Linked DNA regions of Homo sapiens. The protein of the gene in region 2 purifies or fractionates together with the protein of the main gene of each other region. This does not show direct contact. Each region holds a gene or a part of one and is shown on either strand. Other genes may lie near its edges.

The links.
Region 1: the proteins of RMND5B (region 2) and RAB8A purify together in Homo sapiens (affinity purification with mass spectrometry, with the first as the bait; one large-scale study listed by BioGRID). This does not show direct contact.
Region 3: the proteins of RMND5B (region 2) and RANBP9 purify together in Homo sapiens (affinity purification with mass spectrometry; 2 studies listed by BioGRID and IntAct, with this or other methods). This does not show direct contact.

What each region holds. Positions count from the first base shown.
Region 1 is NC_000019.10:16,128,889-16,131,965, reverse strand, and holds part of RAB8A (ras-related protein Rab-8A), read right to left. Parts: intron 2,413-3,077; coding exon 2,362-2,412; intron 1-2,361. UniProt on the Homo sapiens protein: The small GTPases Rab are key regulators of intracellular membrane trafficking, from the formation of transport vesicles to their fusion with membranes.
Region 2 is NC_000005.10:178,133,988-178,137,641, forward strand, and holds part of RMND5B (E3 ubiquitin-protein transferase RMND5B), read left to right. Parts: intron 1-1,182; exon of another isoform or gene 1,183-1,225; coding exon of another isoform or gene 1,226-1,325; intron 1,326-3,654. UniProt on the Homo sapiens protein: Core component of the CTLH E3 ubiquitin-protein ligase complex that selectively accepts ubiquitin from UBE2H and mediates ubiquitination and subsequent proteasomal degradation of the transcription factor HBP1.
Region 3 is NC_000006.12:13,621,087-13,624,840, forward strand, and holds the end of RANBP9 (ran-binding protein 9), read right to left. Parts: intron 1,407-3,754; coding exon 1,276-1,406; 3' UTR 412-1,275; downstream 1-411. UniProt on the Homo sapiens protein: May act as scaffolding protein, and as adapter protein to couple membrane receptors to intracellular signaling pathways. Acts as a mediator of cell spreading and actin cytoskeleton rearrangement.

The DNA.
Region 1 (3,077 bases), on a different chromosome or scaffold from region 2:
ACCAATCAGCCATCAAACCATCCATCCATCATCTGCCAGTCCGTCCAGCTGTCCCCTTCCAACCATCCAACCAACCAACCAACCAACCAACCAACCAACCAACCAACCAACCATCCATCTATACCCTTTCAACCATCCATCCATCCACTCACCCATTCCCTTCCATCCGTCTATCCACCTGCTTCCAACCAACAAACCAATCAACCAACCATCCATCCCTTCCAACCAAGAACCATCCACTCATCCATCCCTTTCCAACCATCCATCTTCTTCCAACCATCCATCCCCTTCCAACCAACCAACCAACCATCCATCCCCTTCTAACCACCTCATCCAACCAACCATCCATCCATCCCTTTCCAACCATCCATCCACCCATCCATCTCCTTCCCCCCATCCACCCTCTTCCAACTAACCATCTCCTTCTAACCACCCCTTCTGACCAATCAACCATCCATCCATCCCCTTCCAAGCAACCACCTCCTTCCAACCAACCATTCATCCATCCCCTTCCAACCAACCAACAAACCAATCATCTATCTATCCAACCATCTCCTTCCAACAAATCAACCATCGATTTATTCCCTTTCAACCAACCATCCATCCATTATCTTCTACCCATCCATCCAATTCTCTTACAACTGATAATTCGTTTTTCAGAAACAGATCTATTTTCCATCTGCTATATACCACCCCTTCCAACCACTCTCTCACTTATCTGCCCACCCCATCATACCCTTCCCAGCACTTTGGGAGGCTGAGGCAGAAGAACTGCTTGAGCCCAGGAGTTTGAGTCCAGCCTGGGTAACAAGTGAGATCCTGCCTCTTAAAAAAGAAAAAATGGCCAGGCGGGGTGGCCCACACCTGTAATCCCAACACTTTGGGAGGCCGAGGCAGGTGGATCACCTGAGGTCAGGAGTTCAAGACCAGCCTGACCAACATGGTGAAGCCTCGTCTCTACTAAAAATACAAAAATTAGCTGGGCGTGGTGACATGTGCCTGTAATCCCAAGTACTCGGGAGGTTGAGTCAGAAGAACCGCTTGAACCTGGGAGGCAGAGGTTGCAGTGAGCAGGGATTGCACCATTGCACTCTAGCCTGGGCAACAGAGCGAGACTCCTTCTCAAAAAAAAAGAAAAAGAAAAAAAATTAGCCAGGCATGGTGGTGTGTGCTTATAGCCCCAGCTACTTGGGAGGCGGAGGTGGGAGGATTGCTTGAGCCCAGGAGTTGAAGGCTGCAGTGAGCTGTGATGGTGCCACTGCACTCCAGCCTAGGTGGCAAAGTGAGACTCTAAAAAAAAAATCTCTTTTTTAACTAATAAGAAAACTAAAAGAAAAAAGAATCAGACCTTGACCATTATACTGAAGAAAAAAAATTGCAAGAAAATCCCAAATTATTGTTGGTCAGTGCACTGGTTTCCATGAACTGTTTCCCATTTTAATTTAATGGCCAAAGAGCTGCTATTAAATCAATCACATGCCTCACTGTTCAACACACCGCATCTTAGAATTACAAAACAGATTTGCTTACATCAGATGTAAAACTTGAACGGCATTTTGTATTTTATGTGCATTCTCAAGTGACCAGACTTAACCCACAAATAGAGCGCCGTGTGCTCCTCGATTGGACAACCAATGTAACATGGCCGGGAAAGGGCAGTTGCTGGAACCAGGGCGAGGGAGGAAGGGTCACTACGGTGTTTAGGCACTAAATGCCCCCAAAGTACAGGGAAGTGTTTGATTCCATCAAGAAAGCACCATTGATACTGAGCGCAGCGGACTAGGAAATCGCTAACGTGGTAAAAAAAAAAAAGCAAGAAACGAATGAGAGGGTAGATGGGTAGGGATTCATGCAGACTTCCCTGGAGGCCTCAGAGAACCCTGGGACACAATGAAGGTTGCAGAGCTGTCACAACTTGTAGCATCTGGGGCTGGGGTGGAGCGGGGGCAGGTTCTTGATCTGCCATGCTTGTCAAGACGATGAGCCAGCAGTTATCAGACACCAGCCCTGGCCCTGCCCAAGCGACCTAGGAAGCTTTTCTCCGAGCCATGGCTCTCTGTCCTTGCACACCATGTTGTCTTTCTGGCCCTTGAGTGGAATGGAAAAGGCCGTGTGCTCCCTGCTAGCCTGGGGATTCACCGGGCACGGCCTTGTCTGCTTGGGCAGCGTCCCCAGGCTGGCACTGCCTGATGCTGATGCCCCAGCCACACCTGCAAACTCTTCCCCCTTTCCCAGCAATGTCCCATGGGGTCTGGCTGGGCCCTAAAAAGCAGGATCTAGGGCACGTCATATCACTGCTGCTAACGACGATGGCTGGATCCCAGAGATCCACCCGGGGATCTCGGAAGGACACACACTCACCAATTTTTTGTCCATTTTTGCTTTGATATCTCTGGCGAGAGTGAAAAATGCCTGTGGAATAAGCACATTGTGAGTCCTTGGGATGGCAGGACCCTGAGTCCTCAGCCGCCCGTGTACAGCGGGTGTGGTGAGACAGCTTCCCAGGCGTGGGCCTCCCATTTGGCCCTTTGATGCCCGCCTCTGGCAGTGGGTTCATCTGGCCTGTCCGGCCCCAGCTCATCCTTCCCCGGCTCCCTCTGCCTCCCACCCACCCTTACTCTCTGACATCAACTCTCACTTCCGCAGAGCACCTTAGCATTGACGGGACTTTACGCATGTGCCACCTCCCCTAAGCCCTGTGAGATGGGGCGACACTCAGTTGGCCAGAGAGGAAACTGAGGCTCAGAGAGGCCAAGTGACTTGTCCAAAGGAACCCAGCAGTTAACCGACCAATCCAGAAGGATCTAGGAGTGCCCAGTTCTTTGTCTCTGACTCCTAGGTTCTGTCAGCTCTGGCCTCCCTTCTGATGGTCAGGGAAAAAGGCAAGCAGCTCTGTGGCCAAACAAGCTTCACTCGGAGTCCTTGCCTGGCAGGGCTGGGAGCGGGAGCAGGTTCATCTCCCAGCACAGCCAAGGGTTGAGCTGCTGTCACAGCCTTGAGGAGGGGACATACAGAGATGGCGGGAGGCGTGATCCCAACATACATCCCCATGATGTGGGAGGTTCTGGAGAGGAGAG
Region 2 (3,654 bases):
CAGGCGTGAGCCACCGCGCCCTGCCCCAATCAACAAATGTTTACTGAGCATCTACCATGGACCAGGCCCTAGTCTGGGCACTGAGGGGGAGAAAGGACAAGACTACATTCCAGCCATCGAGCAGCTCACAGACCAATGGAGGAGGCTGACGTGGACAGGCTGTTACTGTGCTGCAGTAGCTGAGGACTCGATGGGTGTGGTGTGGCCACTCTTGCCAGGTTATGAAGCAGAAAAGGAGGCAGGGAGATTTCACTGAGGGCTCAAGGGGAGGTGATAATTTAACTACAGCTTACGTACTCTATACAAAGAAGTGCAGAGGGCACTCTAAAAATGGGAACAACTTGTGCAAAGGAAGCAAATACATTATTGCAAAGGGTTTATATGTCAACCATGGTAGTGTTGGGCAAAAGGTAACAGGATCTGCTATGTGTTTCGGAGGGTCATCCTGGTGGATAATTTCTGTATATGTGAGACCTTGGGGAGGAAGGCTTAGGACCAGTGGACATGAAATTTCAATCTATTAATCATGAAGTTTGTCAAAGACAAACACAATTCCTTGCGCCTGGTGAAGATGACTGACTGATTCAGGCAGAGTGGCTTGCTCTAGACAGACTGAATTAACCTCCTGCATTTTTTGGATAGAATACCCACGAACAGTTCTGTTTTCTCAGTTCATTTATTTTACTTTTAAAAATTTGGCCAGGTGATTTGGCTCACACCTGTAATCCCAGTGCTTTGGGAGGCCAAGGCAGGTGGATCACTTGAGGCTAGGAGTTCGAGACCAGCCTGGCCAAAATGGCGAAACCCCGTCTTTACTAAAAATACAAAAATGAAAAAAAAAAAAAGCCAGGTGTGGTGGTGCACCTGTAATCCCAGCTACTTGGGAGACCAAGGCATAAGAATTGCTTGGACCCGGGAGGTGGAGGTTGCCAGTGAGCCAAGATAGCACCACTGTATTCCAGCCTGGGCAACAGAGCGAGACCGTCTACAAAAAAAAAAAAAAAATTACTGAGTTAATCACACTCCTCAGTTCATGATACATTTAACTGGTCCATGCAGGGCCTTTTTCTCCTTTGTATTTATATTCCCTTTTGTCCCTATTCTTCCCCTCTCTTCTCACCACAGGAAACCATTCTGATGTGTTTGGTGTATATCTTCTTTTTGTTTTTTGTTTTTTTGAGACAGGGTCTCACTCTTGCTCAGGCTGGAATGCAGTGGCATAATCATGGCTGACTGCAGCCTTGACCTCCCGGGCTCAAGCAGTCCTCCGTCCCACCTCAGCCTTCTGAGGAGCTGGGACCACAGGCGTGTGCCACCATGCCCAGGTAAATTTGCCGTGTTGCCCAAGCTAGTCTCAAACTCCTGAGCTCAGCAGTCTGCCTGCCTTGACCTCCCAAAATGCTGAGATTACAGGTGTGAGCCACTGCTCCCAGCCTATATGCATATACTTTTAATTTACATAAATGGATTCTGCCTAGACCTCATTTTTTTCCACCTCAGTGCCATGTGTGGAGCTTGTCGATGTTGCTCTGGGTATATTTGGGATGCAGTTTCTAAATGCTCCACAGGTTTCCATAGATGCATCCCCCACATTTTACTTACTTGATTCCTCTAGTGATGAGGTCCCTAGATTGTTTCCCACTCCTTGCTACAATGCAATCCCGTACCCATCTCCTTCCTCAGCTTTGTAAATAGAATTTTATCGCTTCTCAGCCTTTTCGCTGAGATCAAGTGTAGTAAATACAATTTCAAGATGCTGATTTGAGCTTGGCTTTGATAAGCCTGGTAGCTCTTGGTGTCTGACAGGGCCGGATTGTTTGACCTTCGTGAGGTCCTGGCTTTTTTGAGCCATGTTTATTTTTGATAAATTGTGATTCTAGTTCCCAGACACTCTTGGCCAACATTCTAGTGTCCTGCCATCTTCCCCAGTTGATCATTCTCACGAGCTCTGTGGTTAATTTTCTGTTTCTCATCATCATTAATGGTTGCTGTACACTCATTCCAACACAGATATTTGCTCTTTCCTTTCCTGGTGAAACAGTGGCCTGTGAAGCTGGTCCTGGGAGTACCTGTGATGTGAAGTACGTAGAGAAGGACTCTGAGGCCAGAGCCAGACTGTCTGGCTTCAGTTCAGTTCCCAGCTCCTCCACTTCCCAGACGCCTGACCTTGGGCAACTGATTTAATCTTTGTGTCTCATTTTCTCATCTGCAAAGTGGGTCTAATCATTGTACCTACCTCATAGTGTTTTCGTGAGCATTAGGTAAATGAATTAATGTATGCAAAGTCATTAGAACGGTGCCTGGCACATAACAGGCTCCTATTTGGAATGTCAGCTGTTAATAATAGCAATAATAATAATTACGTCATTTCAGATAGGAGACCCTGTTATATTTTGCCATAATGGGTCACATTCAGTTGCAGGGTGTTTGTTCAGAGGGGATGGTGGGGGGTGGGTGGCATAGCTTCTGGACTCTCTGACTATAGATTCCAGCGTAATAGCATTAGCTGTAAGGAAAAAGGGAAGAAACACAGCCCCCAAGGCCCTGGGTGCCTTTTCACTGTCACTTGTTGCCTGTCAGGTTGGGAGACAGTGGCTACAGATGGGTCAAGGTGCTGAGGCCGGGACTCATGCTGGTGGGAATGAGGGAATGAGTGAAGAGAGCCTGTGAAACTGGGAGGATCTTGGTGGTCACCTTGGACATAGGATTCTCTTTCTCTTTGATGTTCCTCTGTACCCTTCTTGAGAATGGGCATTGGGCTAGATCAGCTCTGTCACTGACATTCTGAGGTTTGCCCACGTGTTCAGTGTCAAAGGCTGCTCTGAAATGGAAAGGAGCAGTGGCCCAGGGTAGAAAGGACACAGAAGGAAGCCCCAGTGGTAGGGAGAGGAGATAGGACAAGAAAAGTCAACTTTCTTTCAATGGTATAATGAGGAGGGAAGGTTGTGTTGCAGCAAGAGAGGTTCTGGTCTGGTGGGGGAGGCAGGCCCAGTGACCAAAACTGAAATAGAAGGGTGCAAAGTGAGAGTAGAGGGAGCTAGGTGGGCACAGGCTAGAGACAGCTGCTGAAGACGCTGACGTCTGAGCTAACTCAGAAGTGATGGGCCAGCCTCTCAAGTAGTCGAGGAGGTAAGGGTGATGGAGAGCAGGCCAGGTGAGGAAGCAGCATGTACCAGGGCACGCAGCTATGAGACAGCAAGGGTTCTGTGCCTGTCCTCGGGTGTGCGGCGGGTGAGGGTGAGGCAGGAGTGCTGGGCAAGTCCGTCAGGCCAGCATGGTTGGCAGTTATTCCCCAAGCTGTGTTTCCAAATATCAGCCACTCAAGGACGGCCTTTATGGTTTATGTTACTATAGTACGTAGAAAAGCAGTTCCTCTAACTGTAAGAATGTGGCCATAATAACTCTATGAAAATACACGGGCCGGGCATGGTGGCTTATGCCTATAATCCCAGCACTTTGAGAGGCCAAGGTGGAAAGATCGTTTGAGCCCAGGAGTTTGAGACCAGCCAGGGCAACACAGAGAGACCCGTCTCTACGAAAAAAAATTTTAAATTAGACAGGTGTAGAAGCACACTCCTGTGGTCCCAGCTAGTCAGGAGGCTAAAGTGGGAGAATCCCTTGGGCCTGGGGGGATCAAGGTTGCCATGAGCTGAG
Region 3 (3,754 bases), on a different chromosome or scaffold from region 2:
CCCGGGTTAGAGGGGTGGCAAAAATGGCACGGACTAAAAGGAGAAATGGATATTCCAGCAAAGTCTCTAACTGCAGCCTGTAGACAATTTGCTATTAAAGATTCAGTGCACAAAATATAGCTAACAGCTTTTAAATTTTTACTTTTAACCAGTCTGGGGATTTGCTTGCCTGGTGAGTCTCATATGCCATATTATGAATATGAAAATAATGAAGTTAATTTCCTGTTGCCTTTCTGTGTCAGCCACAATATCAGGTCTAACCCTAATCCAGGGATGCCAGTAAACTGAAGGCAATTTTAGGTTGTAGAACTCAGATTAATTGTAGAAACCATTAATTTTAATTGCTCTAATTTTCATAGTAATCATAAAAAGTATGCAAGTACCTAATATATAAACTCAATTGACACTGTATCTGTAGAAGTAAATTTTTAATGGCTGGTTAATTATATCACTACATTTTATTGCAATATAGTACTCATTTAAGCACTTAAAAATGGAAGGTGTACAAAGATTAAATTAAGACACGGTAAATTGACTAAATATTTGGTTTTTATATAAATAAAGGTCATAACCACACCGTTGACATGTAATACTGTTATAATACAACAGTTAAACTTGTGAGTCTACAACAGAAGTCATCTGTAGTTAAACAGGAAACAAAGTTGAAAAAGACCATGTTAAAACAAAACTACTGGGACTAACAGGTCGGGATTGTAAGTAGCAACAAACATATTCACTCAGCTCCTGAGTATTTCAAGTTTTACAGTACACATTAAAAATGATTTCTTCCATCAACACTATAAATTCAAACTGTCGGATGTTTATGCATTTTGCAAGTTACACTGATTGAATGCTTATATGGGAGTGGGGGTCGGAACATCTCCCAATTTGAAGTTTACATCACCCACATGCTAACACAAACACAACTTGTTCCATTTCCTTCCCCTCTCTCCCCCCTCCCCCACAAAGAAGGCAGGATTTTTGGTTTCTTTTAGGTAATTGTTTTAAAGGATTTGTGATGATCAATTTGAACGTCTGAAATTCAGTAATATTTAACTCTTAGACAACTAAGAGGTTAAAGATGGAAAATAATTTCTCCTAACACTAAGTTAGAAAATCATTTGCATCATGCTGTAAACTAGGAAGCAATGTAAAGCGACAAAAACCTGTCCCCAGTACATAATTTAAAAAATCTAAATTTCAAATCAGCAGAGCTGGTCTACTTCCATGTTGACTATATGCCACAATATAAGTGTGAGCTCTTGAAATGCATAGCTAATGTAGGTAGTCTTCCACTGTGGCAAATGCGCAGGATCCAATTCCTGATCGAGCCATCAGTCCTAGACATTGTGTGGCCTGTCCCATTGCTAGGGCAAGTGGAGGTTGCTTTGGCAGATTGTGGGTTTCTGAGGAAAAATAATTTAAAAATGAGAACAGCAATTAGCAAGACATTTTAAAAAACATTTCAATCAGGAGAATACTGCAATGACTTTAAAAACTACCACTCCCATACCACTCTGAAATATCAGCAAATGAAGGTTTCTAAGCAAAAGACAGATGCCGCCTTGGACATACTATTCTGACAAGGTAGTGTGGGTATTGTGTATTCAACTATAAGATAAACTCTGGCAGAATCAGACTTTTAAAGTATCAGATACTAAAATACTTCCATATTAACTATGATGGGAAAGGTACAATTTTTTATCTGATATTTGGAGTGGAGAGTAAGGAATTATTTCCCTTCTGGTTGATCAAAGTCAGTTGATACTAACTAAAACTAAAAAAGGCACCAGGTTTTCATTACAAGTTTCCACTGATGGGTTCTTCCACCTCTGTGGATAGGACCAAACAGGCTGCCTAGCCATCTCCAAGGCATATATAGGTAATGTTATTTGGGCTGGTGGGGAGTAAGTGGTGGTGGTGACAGTGAGAGAACATACAGCAGAGCCACCCCACAGTTTTGGAGGTGCTAATTTACAGTGGACAGTTCAGACATTTAAAAAAATGCCAATAAATTTTCAGGGTCCTGCATATCATAAGTTTCTTTGTCAGACATTTGTAGTACAAATGCAATAATTAACAAAATTTGTTCCTTGCCAGAGATGGAAAAAAATGAACTAATGGTAAAAGTGGCCAGACTCAGAAGCTGGTAATTTCTCTTTATGAGAAGGCAATGTCCAAACTAATCAATAAAATTACTAATCAGTTCTTTATAGGCACAGTTGACAACAAAGGGCAAAAACAGTTGACACATGGCTAGGAAGGCTTCATATGGTTTAACTCCACTCTTGGTTCAGAGGATGCAATTTGATGGTGGAAGAAAGAAGAGGAAATTTCCAAAAGGGAAAAAGCACAATATCAGAAAGAAGCAAATTCAGGACTTAAAGGTAGAAGAGAAAACAAAAACAGGATTAAGAATAAACGTGTGCAAAAAAGGGCACATAGATTGATGAGAAAGTGTGGTGTCTTGAGGGTTCACAGGGAAGACCGTGCTCAAAGACAAACATCTACAGGGAATATTTTTTTAATTTTATTTTGGCCAAAGGAAGCATCTGGCGATGCATCTTTAACTTTTTTGGATGTATGAAATTTTCATAACACTATATAGATGGACCTACATAATATAGCATGGTATTTATAAACATATACATGCCCATCTATAGCAGTTTAATAATTGTGTCATTAATTTTACAGGAATCGCATACATTTATATTAATAAGATTAAGCACTATTTATGGCTGAATCTACATAATATAGCACAATATGTAAGAGTATATGTGTCTATAGATAATGGTGCTCAACAATTAAATTCCCTTGAAGAACTCAAGAAACTAAATTGTAAGAAAACTGGTCACTTTAAAGATTAGTATCATCTAATAATTAGGTCTTAATGATTACCTACAATATAACTTCAAAAAGACATTTATAGTAAACCATAATTTTCCTTACAATTCCAGCATTATTACTAAGTTACTTTTACCAACGGAGCTAAATGAATTTTGTAGAACCAATGAAAATATAACACATTAACCAAAGAAAATTCACATTTATATACAAATCCTAAATTCCGGAGAACTACAACACTGAGGACACTACTCCTATTCCCAAACTTCAGTATTGGTCCTTAACAAATTAATAAATTTTCTAAGGGCAAAGAAACAGACTGAGTCTTAAATATGAATGCTTTTCATTGCTTCCTTTACATTCTTGCTGTAAGAGTCCTGGCCCTCATTGCAAGTCTCCCTATCTAAACTACTCTTTAATCTACTTTTTGTGGCACTGCCCTCATCTTCCTAAACTAGTTTGAAATATGTGACTAAAAGTCCCTGAACCTTGCAGGGCCAAACAGCACAGCACAGACTTCTAAACTAGACTGGAGTCCCAATTACCTGGGAATTAGACTCTGAAGTCAAATGAAAACTCACTCTTTATATAAATTACCTTTGATGAGAACTGCCCAAAACTCAAACTTGTTTTATGTAAACAATCGACCCTATCACATTTATATAGAAATGCACAATATGTGCAGTTACACAATTCATATAAAAAGTACTTGTTCAGTATATAAATACTATAATCACAAACGCTACAGTGAGCTGCTCATAGGAATGGCAACCAAACGAACATCGAATTAGCGTTTCGCACTTGATGCTCACCCCTGGCTAAGCCTCGCCTTTTAAATTGCTTTTCTCTTCCTCACCCACCCTTTTTATTGGGTAAGGGCATGTAGTTGAATCCGGCTAATATAAATGCA